Regions from separate parts of the Homo sapiens genome. Here region 2 is linked to region 1. The links come from fine-mapping of genetic effects on gene expression. Tissue or cell type: cerebral cortex. Region 1 holds a variant in brackets; the other region holds the start of a gene. All regions are shown on one strand. Distances are from middle to middle.

Region 1 (8,000 bases):
TTTGGATCTTCACTGTGAGAACCTGTTAGAGCTTTTGGAGATAAAACTCACAAAAGTGTGGGAGTTCCCTAAGATGGAGCTCCCCTGGACTTTTTAACTCTCAGTCCCGTCTACGTTGAATCTCCAGCAATTCAGTAGTTACAGTTACGGTTTTTCTATCCTGGAACTGGTTCCCATGTGTGTTTCTGCTTCTTGTTTTTTACTCTGATAAATTGTCATCTCTGTTTCCAGTGTGTCTCTCTCTCCAGAGTGAGGAATGACAAAATTACATCTCATTGAAAGCCACTGCTCTTGGTTTTATAATATCTTTACATCTTTGATTTACCACAATGTAACTTTGAATGTTGTACCACTTTTCCTTCCATCCTCTTTTGTGCTTTTTCATGTGTTTTACGTCTGCATATGTTATAAACCTCAGAATACATTGTTATTATTTTGGATTTAAAAAGGCATTTATTCTTTCATGATATTTGTTACTTATGTTACTTTTTATTCCTTTGAGCAGATCTAAATTCCTTCTGACATTATTTTTCTTTTGCCTGTAGAATTTCATAACTATTCTTATAGTGTAAATCTACTGAATATAAATTGTTTCATTTTCTTTCTGAAAAGTCTTTATTTCACTTTTATTTTGGAAAGGGTGTTCACTATGTATAGAATAGTAGATTGACAGTTTTTTCCTTTAGTATTTTGTCACCAGTTGTCTTCTGAGTTTTATAACTTCTGATGAGAAGTCTGCTGTCATTCTAATCTTTGTCCCTCTGTATTTAATGTCTCTTTTTCTGACTGCCTTTAACCTTTCCACTTTATTACTGATTTTAAGACATTTCATTATGACATGCTTTAGTTTAGTCTTATATCTTTTTTTGCTTAGAATTCGTTGAGCTTATTGGATCTCTGGGTTTATAGTTTTCATGAAATTTGGTGAATTTTGGCCATTGTTTCTATAAAAATGTGTGTGTTTTTGTCACTCTTTCTTCCCTAGAATTCAAATTAAATTTTCATTAAATGGCTTAATATTGTCCTGGCTGTCACTCATGCCCTTTCATATTTTTGTAGTCTTTTTTGTTTAGCCACTTTATTTTGCATAGTTTTTATTTTTCATGTGTTCTAGTTCACTGATCTTTTCTTCTGCAGTTTGTAAATTGCTGTTCATCTCACTTAGTGTGAGTTTTGTTTCAGATACTGCATGTTTAACCTTTAGAAGCTTCACTTATATATATATATGAAAGGGCAGATATGTACATTTAGAAGAAAAGAGAGATGTGACTACCTCGCATATTTTGTGTGTGTGTATGTATCTTTCATTTCTCTGTTACTTTTTGAATGGATGTTGGGTATTGCACATCGTATTTGTTGGGTGCCTGATTTTGTTATATACTTTTACATACTTTTGGCTTTTGCTCTAATGAATAATTAAATTACTAAGAAGTTGGATCCTTTTTTTTTTTAAATTTTGAGATGGAGTTTCACTCTCGTTTCCCAGGCTGCAGTGCAATGGCGCAATCTCGGCTCACTGCAACCTCTGCCTCCTGTGTTCAAGCAATTCTCCTGCCTCAGCCTCCTGAGTAGCTGGGATTACAAGCACCTGCCACCATGCCCAGCGAATTTTTGTATTTTTAGTAGAGACAGGGTTTCACCATGTTGGCCAGGCTGGTCTCGAACTCCTGACCTCAGGTAATCCACCCACTTCGGCCTCCCAAAGTACTGAGATTCCAGGCATGAGCCACTGTGCCTGGCCAGAAGTTGGATCCTTTTGAGGCTTAGTTTTAAGCCTTGCTAGGTGGGACTAGAGCAGCCTTTAACCTAGGACTCATTTAGCCCTACTTCTGCAGTGATGCTTTCCTAAGGATTTTCTAGTATCTCATGTAGTGGGAGCCATTTTGGCTGCTGGGATCATAGAATACTCCTGGCTGTGTGTGAAATCTGAAATTGGTTCCACCTGCTGCATTCTGGTGCTTCTTTTTTTGGCCCTTGGGAAATTTTTATTCATACATGCACAGGTCAGTGCTCTTCCAAATACTTGAGGGAACCTTCCTGCAGTCTGTTTGCTGTCTCTCTGTATAGCTGTTTCTGTTCCAGCATTCTGCCTTTCGAGGCCCTGTGGCCTTGGCCTCCCTATACTCCAGTCTTTGTCTTCTCAACTTGGCAAGAAAGAAACAGAGACTCTGGGTTTTGACTTCCTCTTCTCTATTCTGTGGCATTGAAACTGTTTCCATGGAGTAAGTTAGGGCAATTGTAGGCATCTCTCACCTATTTTGTTTCTCTTCTCCATGGGATTATATCTTGCTGAAACCTTTGATTCATATTTTTGGCTTGTTTTGTAGTTGTTTAAGACAGAAGGGTAAATCTTGTCACTGTTACTTCACAATATTCATAAGCAGAAATCCTGTCTTAATATCTTGCATTTCTTTTCTATGTTTAGAGATGATATTGTAGGTTGTTTTTGCTGATACATAAGGGGCCTGGTGGCATTTGCCTCTTGGTTTAAGTCATTATCTTTTTTGGTATCTTGATAAAAATCTTGTGTTGCCTGTATAGGATGCCATTGCTGGAAACATTACAACTCTCTTTTTTTGTAATAGAGGAAGTCATGTCCTGAGCAGAGGTTGTATAGATTTTGCCTGACTTGTGGTATCATTTCTTAGGATATATAACAACTTGGTCATTGGTTTTTCTCCCACTGCTTGTGGTTTTAGGAATATTCTTCAACTGATGAATTCACCACCTACTTCATTCTTGGGTTGTGAATCCCTACACTTGAGTTCTGTTCTAAGAGCCAAACATGCAACATGCTGAGTTGGTTGGTTTATTGCCTGGAAAATTGTTAGGGCAAAATTGATACTTTGATTATGGAGGGAAAGAGGCAGATTTTTCAGATGAAAGGTGTGCAACTCCAAATTCTGGTTTATTCTAAAGATAAGGGTAGAAGTAGATGTGTCATGAGAAAGTGAAAGAAGCTCAATTCATATATAGTGAATTTTATAGTGGGTGGGCATAATAGGACCACAAATAAGTAGAGTGACCCTATATCTCATTTGCTGAGGACAGTCCTGGTTTATACTTGTTGTTCTGGAATAATTGTTAATAGCATCCCCTTTCACTCTTCAAAGTGTCATACTTTGTATGATAGAATATATACATATTTAGTTATATACATATGATTATATATATCTACTTATATATACTTGCATATGTATAAGTATATATAAGTATATCATATTTATTGTATACTTATATTTATATTATTATACTTGTTATGTATCTACATATATATAATGTCTACTTATAAGTAGATACGCATATAATGGAATATATATATATGTAGTCACCTACTTATAAGGGATTGATTAAAGAATACAAGGTAAGTATTGATTCCTTGGTTATTGTTATTTCTTGGAAGATAGATTTACTGTTTACTTTGTGTTTTAGTTAAATAATATATAGTATATACTGACTAATAAATATGGTTTTATACATTTCTGGTGTTTTTCCTGTAGATGATCTCAATGCCACCCACCAACACTGTGTTTTGGCCGGTTCACAACCTCGGTTTAGTTCCACCCACCGAGTGGCAGAGGTAAGTGTAAATAAAAATGTGATTCACACCTAATTGGATGTGACAGAAGTGGTTGAATGAGCAATTTACTATAGAGCTTTGGAAGAGTATTTGATGGGAAAATTGCTTCCATCTAACTTGACTTTCGTCTCTGTTTACTTGCTTTTTGAGCTTTGGATTGTGTTGGATACAGTTTTAGAAAGCATATTCATGCCATGGGATAAGTGTGTTTTGCTTCTTGGGGTTATGTTTCTTGGAGAAGGAAAATGCCGTTGACAAGTGTTTATAGTTAGAGGTTTATTTAGAGGGTTGTATCTGTCAAGGTCAAGGGCAGGAGATGACCAGAAGAATTGGGGCAGATTTTTATGCTTGTGCATGTGTTAGCTGTGGCTGGGTTCAGATGTTGAGAATTTTCATTTCCCTTAACTTTTTGGTCAGACTTCTGGGCATGTGAATGTAAAGAGAAAGTTACAGGGTTGCCAAGGAGTTTCTGAGCTCCACAGTTGTGTTCATAACCCAGACTTTATTGCTAAATTCTGCCACCACTTGCAATGGCCCATGGTTAGCTGTTCAGACTAGTTCAGAATGGAAAACTAAGAAATGAGAAAAACTCATATTAGTCATGTTGGGGTCCCATGTACTCAGTTAAGAGGGGTTCCAGAGAGCAAGGCATGAAAGGGATTACAAGTGACCTTCTACCTAAGCTTGCTATCCATGCTTTGCTTTA[T/C]AGCTTGACCTTTCATGGAACTACAGGGGACAAGTGTGAGAAAATTGGGCGGAAGTGGTACAACAAAGTGAGAGGTACAGGTGCAAGGTCTTCCAGTGGCAGTACTGCGTGAGTCTATACGGCAGTGTTGTGTCTTTTGGTCATTAAGTAGCTTTACCAGTGGAACGATCATATTGCTGTGTGGCAGAGAGAGAATGAATGAGTATTTAAACCAAGATGCCAGCAAGCCCATCCAGCACCTCTTTCTTCCTTTCTCCCCTTTCTTCTCTTTTCCATTCACTCATTCATTTAAATATTTGAGTGCCTGTTATGTGTCCAAAACTGTAGGCCTGGGAGATAGAGCCGTCAACATGCCCATGATGCCCACCACTTTTGTGAACTTTAGTTGGGGGGGACAAATTTTAAACAAATAAACACAGAAATAATTGTCTTAGAGACCTAAAGGGAGTTCTGTTAGAAAAGAGGGAAGCGAGGGAGGAAGGTAGGTAAGGACGAACAGAGGAAGAAAAGAAGGGAGGGAGGGAGGAAGGAAGAGAGGGAGGGAGGAAGGGAGGAGCAAGTATTTATAGAGCATCTAATATGTGCCTTGTATTATACACAAGGATTTCATTTCCCCAGTTATAGGCATCTGTCTTTCTAGCTATAACCCTCCTAAGAATCCCTTTCTTGTGGATCACTTGAGTATATGGCTACTTAAGTGCGCCCTTCTACGTCTTTCCTAATCTAATCCAGAAGAGTGGACAGTCTCATTAGTGCTGGGTTCAAAGGGCTGTACAAAATGATAAATAAAAAGCTTGGGAAATATGTTCATGGGGATAAGAATCGTACCTAATCGTAGTGTTCTTATGAGGATTAAATTAGTTAATACATGTAAGTCTTTTTAGAACAGTGACTGGTATACATTCAAAGAAGTTTGCCACTACTATTATTAAATTACTTCTACTGCTACTACTGTCTTTTCATTTTATTCTGTTGAAAAACTAATAGGAGATGGGAACAACTAAAGTTCACTGTGTGGAAGGTTATTCTGTCTTCATTTGTACACTACAGTGTACATAATAAAGCAAGAGAGATTAAATCATCAGCAAGTTTTGATTGTAGGAACTACTATTCAGAAGGGATTTCAGTTTGTTCTCTCTTCAAACTTTTATTGAACTTTATAGTGTTCAAGGTATTCTTGTAGGGACTTGTGAACAGGAATGGTTATATTCAGTGTCTTCAAGATGCTTATGGTCTAAAGAGTATGTACAGTGCAGAATAGAATGTAGCAGATAGCCCGGCTAAATTTTGTATTTTTAATGGAGATGGGGCTTTGCCATATTGGCCAGGCTGGTCTTGAACTCCTGACCTCAGTCGATCCACCCACCTCGGCCTCCCAAAGTGCTGGGATTACAGGCGTGAGCCAATGCTCCCGGCCTAGATTTTAGTTTTTGATAATTGTGTCAGAATATTCTTGGGATTCAATACAGAATGTCTTTTTAAAGAAATTTACATTTTATGAATAATTATATTTTGAATAGGTAGTTAATGCAAATGGTTCAAAATTAAAAAAAATACCTAAAGGTATACAGTTAAAGTCTCTTTCTCCTCAGGCCAACCAGCCCCTCATTCCCAGAGGCAACCAATGTTTAAAGGTTCTTGTTACTCTTTTGGTGATATTTAATATATAAGTAAAAATGTATGTAATTTCAAAAATATTTTTAAATATAAATGGTAGCCTACTATATATATGGTTCTGTAGTTTTGTTTCAGTAAACTTTGGTAATAATTACTCATCAATATATAGCACTTAGCGAGGAGTAGGTAATGGCTTTTTAGATATGACATCAAAAGCATAAACAACTGAAGAAAAAAACAGATAAATTGGCCTTCATCAAAGTTAAAAACTTTTGTACTTCAAAGGGTACCATAAAGAAAGTGTAGAGGACCCATGGAATGGGAGAAAATATCTGCAAATCATATATCTCATAAAGCACTTGTGTCTCAAATATTCCAAGAATTCTTAGAACTCAATAATTCAAAAGAGAAATGATCCAATTTAAAATGGCAAAGGAATCGAATTAACATGTCACAGGCTGGGTGCAGTGGCTCATGCCTGTAATCCCAGCACTTTAGGAGGCCGAGGTGAGTGGATCACTTGAGGCCAGGAGTTCAAGACCAGCCTGGCCAACATGGTAAAACCCCGTCTTTACTAAAAATTCAAAAATTAGCCAGGTGTGGTGCCACATGCCTGTAATCCCAGCTATTCAGCAGGCTGAGGCAGGAGAATCGCTTAAACCTGGGAGGTGGAGGTTGCAGTGAGGCAAGATTGCACCACTGCACTCCAGCCTGAGCAATAGAGCAAGACTCCGTCTTCACACACACACAAAAAGAAGGTATACAAATGGCCAATAGACAAATGAAAAATGCTGAACGTCATTAGTCACTAGGGAAATACAAATCAAAACCACGACGGGATAACATTTCACACTCACTAGGATAGCTAGAATAAAAAAGACAGTGACAAGTGTTGGTGAGGACATGCAGGAAGTGGCACCCATGTGCACTGCCAGAGGGAATGGACAGTGGTGCAGCCACTTTGGGAAACAGTCTGGCACATCTTCAGAAGGTTAAATCCAAAGGTACCCTATGACACAGCAATTCCATGCCTAGGTAGTTTCCCAAGAGTGATGGAAACTTCTACAGGAATGTTCATAATCACCAAAAAGTGGAAACAACCCAAAGGTTCATCACTTAATGAATGGATAAATAAAACGTGGCATATCCATACAGTTGAATATTATTGGGCATTGAAATGGAATACAGTAATGATGCATGCTACAACATGAATAACTCTTGAAAACATACGAAATGGAAGCAACCAGTCACAAAAGATACATATTATATAATTCATTTATATGAAGTGTCTAGAATAGGTCTCTCTATGGACATAGAAAGTAGATTAGTGGTTGCCTAGGGTTGGAAATGTTGGTAGAAATCAGTTGGGGTTGGGGGTGACTGCCAAATGGCACAGGGTTTCTTTTTGGGGTGATGAAAATGCTCTAAAATTAATTGTAGTGATATTTGTATAACTCTGTGACTATACGAAACAACATTGCATTATATGCTTTAAATGCTTGAATTTTATGACGTGAATTATAGCTCAATAAAGCTGTTACCAAAAAAAAAAAACCTATCTCAAACTAGGCCTGATTATAGATTATTTACATAAAACAAAACACTATACATCCAGAAAAAAATTATTCCACATCCCACCCCTCTCTCTTTTTGTTTTCTGCAACCATACGTCATTAAACTAGTTTTCCTATTGTTAAGAAATTTAGGTTGTTTCTAATCTTGCATGAAAATGCAATTAATAACCTATGTAGCTCACTCCATACTTGGGAAAGTAAAGGTGCAAGTAGGGAAACTTTCTAGATAGAAGTCATTTTAAAAAGATGTTGTAGGCTGGGTGCAGTGGCTCATGCCTGTAATCCCAGCACTTTGGGAGGCTGAGGGGGGTGGATCACTTGAGGTCAGGAGTTCGAGACCAGCCTGTCCAATATGGTAAAACCAGTCTCTACTAAAAATACAAAAATTAGCTGGGCGTGGTGGTGCACATCTTTAATCCCAGCTACTTGGGAGGCTGAGGCAGGAGAATTGCTTGAGCCTAGGAGGCAGAGGTTGCGGTGAGCCAAGATCATGCCACGCCACTGTACTCTGGTCTGGGCCAGA
Region 2 (8,000 bases), 170 kb before region 1:
AAACACAGCTCTCTGTTCTAAATTGTTCTTTAAAGTAGTGCTTTTCTTTCTCAATTTGAAAGTGCTTTTTAGCTCTACAGCAACTACTAAGTGATAAAAGGATAAAGAAAACCTTTAATCCATATTAATTCGATAAAAAAGTCACTATCATGTGAGATATTCCACTTAAAAGGCAAAACACTTAAAATACGGCCTTTCCTCCCATATAAAATTTAAACACAAAGAAATGTTTTAACACTGAATGTAATTTAAACCAGGCAATTCAGTTTGGAGGCTTGATACTCTCTATGTAGTTTCTACTGATGTGAGGAATTTTAAAAAGATGATTTATGTTAATTCTTTATCAGAACAGAGGGGGGACTGTACATTTTCTATGAGCTGTTGATAACTGATGCATGTAGTAAAATACCATATGTGTTCTAAACTCTCCATCTTTTTGTTTAGTCCAATCAAGGACTATATAGTTACTTAAATGGTTTGGTTTGTATGAGTATAAGAAATACTTTAAATTAAAAGTAGTCAGTGATCAAAGTTCATAACTGTAATAAATAACAGCTGGCCATACCTTGTAACCCTCCCATTCCAAAGAGGTTTAGACCTGTATCTTTCACAGGCAAGTCTCCTGCAGTCTCATCAGTTGGACCAGACATGGCCTAGCTGTGGAAAAAAGAAAATTCAAATAAACTCTTTCCAAATTATTACATTAACTATGCAATGGAATGAACCAAATAAAACGAAAAAGGGACTAGAACTTTAATGGGCATCTTATTGTCCACATGTGCTGCTTGGAGAAGATGAAAGCTTCTATTCTAATAGTACTACTACATTCAGTCATGGAGACAGTGTTCCTTTCAACAGTGTATTTCCTATAGTTTGCTTAGGAAATGAAGTAAGATTATCATTTAAGAAATACCTCCTCTCCATCCCTTTCCTCTCCCCAGCCTCCAAAAGAAAGCAGATATCTTGGAAAAAACTCAGGTCAGGAACTTGATTCAAATGGTTGCTCTATCATTAACAAACTAGTCAAGCCACCTAAACTCTCTGAGTTTCAGTCTCTCAGTTTTAAAAATGGAGAAAATAATACCTATCTCAGAGAGTTATTCTAAGGGTAAATGGGATGAGTAAATTAAAAGCACTGATCACATGTGCCTGGGATGTCAATATTACTCAAATATTGTCTGCTTGATGTACAAATGAGTGGGCAGTTCTGTGCATTTTGTGAGTTTTGTGAAAGAGGTTTCGTTGCATAAATTTACCAACTGGGTTTGTGTTTTTTTGTGTGTGTGTCTTGCCTTTGTTGCCATGAGGCCTAGGTCTCACCCAGGGTTCAACTACTTCAACATATAGGCTCTCTAGCTAATTCTAGTATTTTTGTAGTTTCTATTCTTTACAGAAATACACCATAGTAACTCTATTTTGAGTATGGATGTGAGTGGTCCACACAATATCTAGTATGCAAAAATAAAGGATTTTATATTTTCATTTCAATCTACCTAGTAAGCTACATGCAAACTGTGAATGAAGATACTCTAAAGGGCAGAGTTCTTAAGCTCTAGGATATTGGTTCTAGAATGTAAAGACCAAGACAGTAGCAAGCTTCATTGTCTTGTTCAGCTCTGTATTCTTGGAGGCTAGCATAGAGCGTGGTGCATTCTGAGAGCAGGCATTCATTAAATAGTTGTTGAGTGAGTGAATGGAGTCCATGGGGTTTCAGGGTCTGTGAACCCAGAGATGGTTTACCAAATTTTGTATGTATATGTATATATGCAATATCTTTTAAAGAGGGTTCATAACTTTTATTACAACTCGCAAATGGTGGAGAACCATTGCATTTTGCTTTTACAGAAACAGCTAACAGACAAATCCTTGGGAGATCATCTACTTCTTTTGGAAGTACTCCTATAGAAAAGGTCAATTTTTAGGATCCTGTTGACACATAGGCCCGTGTATGAAAATGATTAGTTTTCCATGACAGAGTTAAGGTCACTTTAAAAATAATAATGATGATGATGATGATGATGGTGTTAACATTCATTGAACGCTTACTATGTGCCAGGTACTGTTCTAAGTGTTCTGTTATAGGAATGAAGTGTCTCACCATATCCTTGTGAGGCTGTTACTCAAATGATTCCTGCTTTACAAATGAGGAAGCTGAGACACAGATTAGTTAACTCACTTAAGGTGGTAGTTGAAAGTATTAATAGTTGTGTCTGGTGATATTTTTGGTTGTCACAACAAGGAAGCGGGATGCTACTGGCATCTAGTGAGTAGAGGCCATGGATGATGCTAAATATCTTACAGTGCTTAGGAGACATAATAATGAATTATCCAGCCCAAAATGTTAATAATAGTGTAGAAGCTGAAAAACCCTGCACAATGCTGCAATGCCTCTCCAACACCATCTTATGTTATCCTTCTTTGCTCACTATGCTTCACTTACATTATTCTTTACTTTCCTCGAACCCCCCATACCCTTGTCTTGCTCAAGGCCTTTGTATTAGCTGGTTCCTTAATCTTTGGAGCTCAGTTCACTTCCTCAGACAGGTTTTCCCTGACCATCCTATGTTAGAGTAGTCTTCCTTACATTTCTTCACTGTTTATTTCTTTTCTTTTCTTTTTTTTTTTTTTGAGACAGGGTCTTGCTATGTTGCCCGGGCTGGCCTTGAATTCATGGGTTCAAGTGATCCTCCCACCTCAGCCTCCCGAGTAGCTGGAACTACATGTGCGTGCCACCAAGCATGGCTTGTATCTCTTATAGCAACTGCCTCTATCTGAAGTTATCAGATAAAATTATTGTTTGTCTCCACTAAAAAAGGATAAACATCTTGAGACGGGTATTAGTCTTGTTCACAACTGTTCAGGAACAGTGCCTGGTACAGGGTGGGAACCAACATTAATATTTATTGAATGATTGGCTGTGCGTGGTGGCTCACACCTGTAATCCCAGCACTTTGCGAGGCCGAGACGGGCGGCTGACTTCAGGCCAGGAGTTCGAGACCAGCCTGGCCAACATGATGAAACCCTGTCTCTACTAAAAATACAAAAATTAGCTGGGTGTGGTGGCACACGCCTGTAATCCCAGCTACTCGGGAGGCTGAGGCAGAAGAATCGCTTGAACCTGGGAGGAGGAGTTTGCAGTAAGCTGAGGTCTTACCACTGCACTCCAGCCTGGGCAACGGAGCAAGAACCTGTCACACACACAAAAAAAAGAATAAAGAAAAAATATTTATTGAATGAATAAATGAATATCAGGTACTGAGATTAAAATGGCAAGCAAAACCCCCGCCTTTATGAAGCTAGCAAGTTATGGAGGTAATCACATGATAAACAAATAATATATAATTAAGCAAACAATAGACCACTCAGGAGGTTTAGGGTCTACCAACCAACTCCTAATCCAGGGCAAATGAGCAAACTGTGTTAGGGACCTACAACTTGCAGGATCTGGATAGAGATGGCAATTAGCAGCATCAACTCTCACCTTCATGGCTGGGATATAACATTTCAAATTGGTCCTGGACGTGGGGATAAAGGGCGGCCTGTGATTCAGGCCTGAGGATGTGGAGGTGTCTTGGGCTGGGCTGCTTTCACGCCAGCAGAACTCCAGGGCCAACTCCAGGGCCTTCTCCAGGCGGCAGAGCGGACCCTAGGACCCCGGCCCGCGCTGCAGTGGGGAGGGTCAGCAACCTCCACCCACCCTCATCCTCCCCCATCCTCCCGGGTACTCACCGTGCCACTGGCCCTGCAGCTAGCTACCGTTGCTATAGCGCCGACAGCGTGGCGGGCGGCTGGCCGAGAGGAGCACGGGAGAAACATGGCAGGCTCCCGTAGCCTCCTGGGAAATGTAGTTCTCCTTGGACTCTAGCCTGTTTGCTCGCGGGGTAGCGGACTACGCTCTTCCAGCTGTCGGACCTGGGAAATTCTCCTGTGCTAAATCCCGTGGCGCTCGCGGGTGTCGCCGCGGTGCATCCTGGGAGTTGTAGTTTTTTCTACTCAGAGGGAGAATAGCTCCAGACGGGAGCAGGACGCTGAGAGAACTACATGCAGGAGGCGGGGTCCAGGGCGAGGGATCTACGCAGCTTGCGGTGGCGAAGGCGGCTTTAGTGGCAGCATGAAGCGCACCCCGACTGCCGAGGAACGAGAGCGCGAAGCTAAGGTATGTCGGGCTCCCGGGGCCTGGAGATCTTCGTGCGCTGTGAGCAAGGATCAGGGAACCGGAAGGGCTTGGTTTGATGGCGAGCGGATGCGCGGTGTTAAACTAAGGGATGACAGGGCCTTGTCAGCAAGGGACCTGGAGATATTAGAGGGGATGTTACAAATTCGTGCTCTTCAGGATGCAGGCCGAGTCTTGTTGGATCGGCTCAAAAATGAGAAGCAAGATACCCATTTCCTTGTCCTTCTTCTGCATCTATTCCTTGGTTAAATTTGTCGCCATCCCTGTGCCTCAGTTTACCGGATTCTCAGATGACTGTGATCATACCAGCTGTGCTTTCTCATAATGGTCTCTGAGGACTGAGATCGGCTTAGATGAAATATCTGTGCAGTCAGCTGTGTTTCTTTGGAACAATTGTCTCCGTGACCGGCTGATAACAGTTTGTGTCTTTTAGCGCTGTGGATATGAATCTTTAACTACATTGCTCCTCTCTACCTTTGATGTTCAGCTTCTGGTAGTTGCCATTCCATGGGATGACCATAATAATGGCAACAGAGATTTTAAAAAGCATTTATTGTGGGTCAGGCACTGTATTAAGTGCATAATATTTAAATTATTTCATATCATTGTCACAGCAGATTGCAAGATAGATATTATACAGATGGAGTATAAATAACAGCCCAGCTTCACAGATGAAGAACTGAGGCTCAGAAGCATTGAGTGTTTTCCTTTCTCTCATTCCCAAACTCAGATCCTGTTGATTTGTCTACGTATATTGGGAATATGCCCACTTTTTTTTTTTTTCATCTCCACTACCTTGGACCAAGCTACCATTATCTTTTTAATAGACTGTTGGAATAGCCTATTGATTGGCCTACACTCACTCTACACCCTAACTTAACTCTTCTTCCACCTTCTCTCCCTTCCCTCAACTACCATTCTCTTCTGCACACCATAGAGTAAGATCTTCGTGAAATGCAAATATAATTATGTCCCTTTCCTTTCTCCTTACTCTGCCAACCACCTGTTTAAAAATATTCCATGGCTTTCTGTTGCTCTTAGGATAAAGGCAAAACTTCACATTGCCTACAAGATCCTGCATGATCTGGACCCTACCTGCTTTCACAACCCCATTGGATATGACACTCTGCTCTCTGCCTACCAGTCACTTTGGCCTTCTTAAAAGTCACTCTTCACTATACTTTATCGGGCTTCAGGGCCTTTGCACATGTCATTTGCTGCCTACTCTATGTTAGGCAAATATTGGCAGTGAATAACAGTGTTAAATAACGTAGACACAGTTCTTGCTTTCATAGAATTTCATCTTACACGTGAGTCTGTTTAGGGCAATACACCTAAGGATTTAAAATATAAAATCTGCTCTATATTGACCTGAGTTATTGCAGTATTTCGTAAGGGACCAGAAGTTTTCATGCTTGAGTCTGCATATGATGTGGATAATATATTAAAGATAAGCACAAAGAGGGCGACCCTTCTGCTTTAGTCTACACAGTGCAAAGAAACAAATGTCACCTCATGGTGTTGTGCATGATGTCTTTCTCATCTTTCAGGTTTATTTTTAAAGTATTTCATTTATTCTGTGAAGATTTGTTGAGCACCTATTATTTGCCATAAGTTGGGATTATAATTTTGGCTGAAATAGAATCACTGCACCAAAGAAGCTCTTACTCTATTGAAACCATAACCATTGCCTGTGAGGGAGTTACTAGTGTCATCCATATTTTAGAGATTTAGAAACTGAGACTTGTAGGTAAATCGTGACTTGCCCAAGGCCACTTGGTTGCTAGGTGAAACTAGTGCTCTGAGCCAGGTCTTCTGACTCCAAATTCAAGGCTTTTCCCATTTTCTGCTTGTGAAACATGTTGAATTAGTAGAGCAAATTGTCTTCCTTTTTTCTTTAAAAAATTGGCTGTTCATTTAAAATTTGTTTGCTTAATATTATTTGTTAGAACAAAGTATAAGTAGTTGTTTTAAATCTTAAATGTAAAGTGTCCAATGGCTCATGAATTATCTTCTCTTTTTCTAATCAATTTTATTGAGGTATAATTTACATACAGTCATTTGCAACCATTTTTGTGTACAATTTGATGCCTTTTGACAAATGTATATACCTGCAAAACCACCACAGTTGGCATAGCGAACATTTCTCTCCTAAGTTCCCTCTCGTTAATTTGTGGTTAGTCTGTCCCTCCACCTTGGCCCCCAAACAACCACTGATATGTTTTTTGTCTCTGTAGATGCATCTGTATTTTCTAGATTTCATATAAATGGAAGCATACAGTGTATACTTTTGGGTCTTTTTTTCATTCAGCGTAATGATTTTTTTTTCAAAATAGAGATGGTGTCTTGCTGTGTTGCCCAAGTTGGTCTGGAACTCCTGGGCTGAAGCCGTCCTCCTGCCTCTGCTACCCAAAGTACTGGGATTATAGGCGTGAGCCACTGTGCCTGGCCAGCATAATGGTTTTTGAGATTAATCCATGTTGTTGTATGTATCCATAATTTGTTCCTTTTTATCGCAAATTAGTGGCCCACTGTATGGAGATACCACATGTTGTTTATTCATTCACTTGTTGCTGGACATTAGGATTGTTTCTGGTTTTGGACTCTTATGAAAAAAGCTGTTTTTACCATTCATGTATGAGTCTTTCCATTTTCATTTCTGTCAAAAAAAGCTGCTATGACCATTCACCTAAGAGTCTTTACATTTTTATTTCTGTCGGGTAATGCCCAGGAGTAGAATTGCTTAGTTATAGGGGAGTTCTTTGTTTAACCTTATGAAGAAATTACCAGTTTTCCGAAGTGATTTGACCATTTGTTTTAGTTTCTTATGGCTGCTGCAACAAGTTACCACAAACTTGGTGGCTTAAAACAACAGAAATTTATTATCTTACAGTTCTGGAGATGAGGCATTGAAATCAAGGCATCAATAGGGCCATACTCCCTTTGAAGGACTCTAGGGGAAACTCCTTCCTTGCCTCTTCCAGCTTCTAGTGTCCCTGGTGTTCCTTGGCTTGTGGTAGCATCACTTCATAACTTCTCTGCTTCCATCTTCACATGGCCTTCTCTCTGTTTCTGTGTCTCAAATCTCTCTCTCCTTTCTGTTAAAAGGATGCCAGTCATTGGATTAGGACCCGTCCTAAATCCAGGATGATCCTGAGATCCTTAAGAGCCTCAACTTAATTACATTTGCAAGGACACTTTTTCCAAATAAGGTTACATTCACACGTGCCGGGTTTTTGGATTCGGACATATCTTTTTGGGGAACAATATTCAAATGCACTGCACCCTTTTACATTCCTACCAACTGTTAGTAGGAATGTAAAATGAGAGTTCTACTTGTTTCATATCTTTTCATCGCTTGTCAGTCTTTTACATTTTAACCATTCTAGTAGGTGTGCAGTGATATTTGATTTTAATTTGCATTTCAGTGATGACTAATGAGGTTGCATATCTCTCTTTTTGTAAATCTTTATTGAGTGAGGTATAATTTACATACCATAAAATTCACCTGTTTTCAGTGTAGGACTCAATGGTTGGTAGCATATTTGCAGAGTCGTGTAACTGTCACCACCGTCTTATTTTAGAACAGTTCCATTCCAGAAGAAACTTTGTATTCATTTGCAGTTATTTCTCAATTCTACTTCCTCCCTAGGGAACCACGAATCTACTCTGTTCTTTAGATTTGCCTTTTCTGGACATTTTTATATAGATGGACTCATACAATATGTGGTCTTCTTTCACCCAGGATGTTTTTGAGGTTCATCCATGTTGTAGCATATATTGGTACTTTGTTCCTTTTTATTACACAGTGGATAGAATTCCAGTG

What was found. PIP is the estimated chance that this variant, and not a neighbour inherited with it, causes the effect.
Region 2: it holds the start of FTO, and the variant in region 1 is fine-mapped to the expression of FTO in cerebral cortex (GTEx, PIP above 0.99). The same link has a PIP of 0.9 or more in T cells, amygdala, anterior cingulate cortex, atrial appendage, blood mononuclear cells and caudate.

Annotation. Positions count from the first base shown.
Region 1 is chr16:53,870,286-53,878,285 of GRCh38, forward strand. It overlaps FTO (FTO alpha-ketoglutarate dependent dioxygenase), which reads left to right. Exons shown (of 9, transcript NM_001080432.3): 5 at 3,501-3,580. Among named protein-coding and RNA genes, the nearest start is that of FTO-IT1, 170 kb to the right of the region's middle. The variant T/C (reference allele first, on the strand shown) is at 4,287.
Region 2 is chr16:53,700,074-53,708,073 of GRCh38, forward strand. It overlaps FTO (FTO alpha-ketoglutarate dependent dioxygenase), which reads left to right and starts at 4,083. Exons shown (of 9, transcript NM_001080432.3): 1 at 4,083-4,156. The coding sequence starts at 4,112. It overlaps RPGRIP1L (RPGRIP1 like), which reads right to left and starts at 3,786. Exons shown (of 27, transcript NM_015272.5): 1 at 3,730-3,786; 2 at 566-657. The coding sequence starts at 650. RefSeq lists a silencer at 3,696-3,745 and enhancers at 3,781-4,281, 3,896-4,305.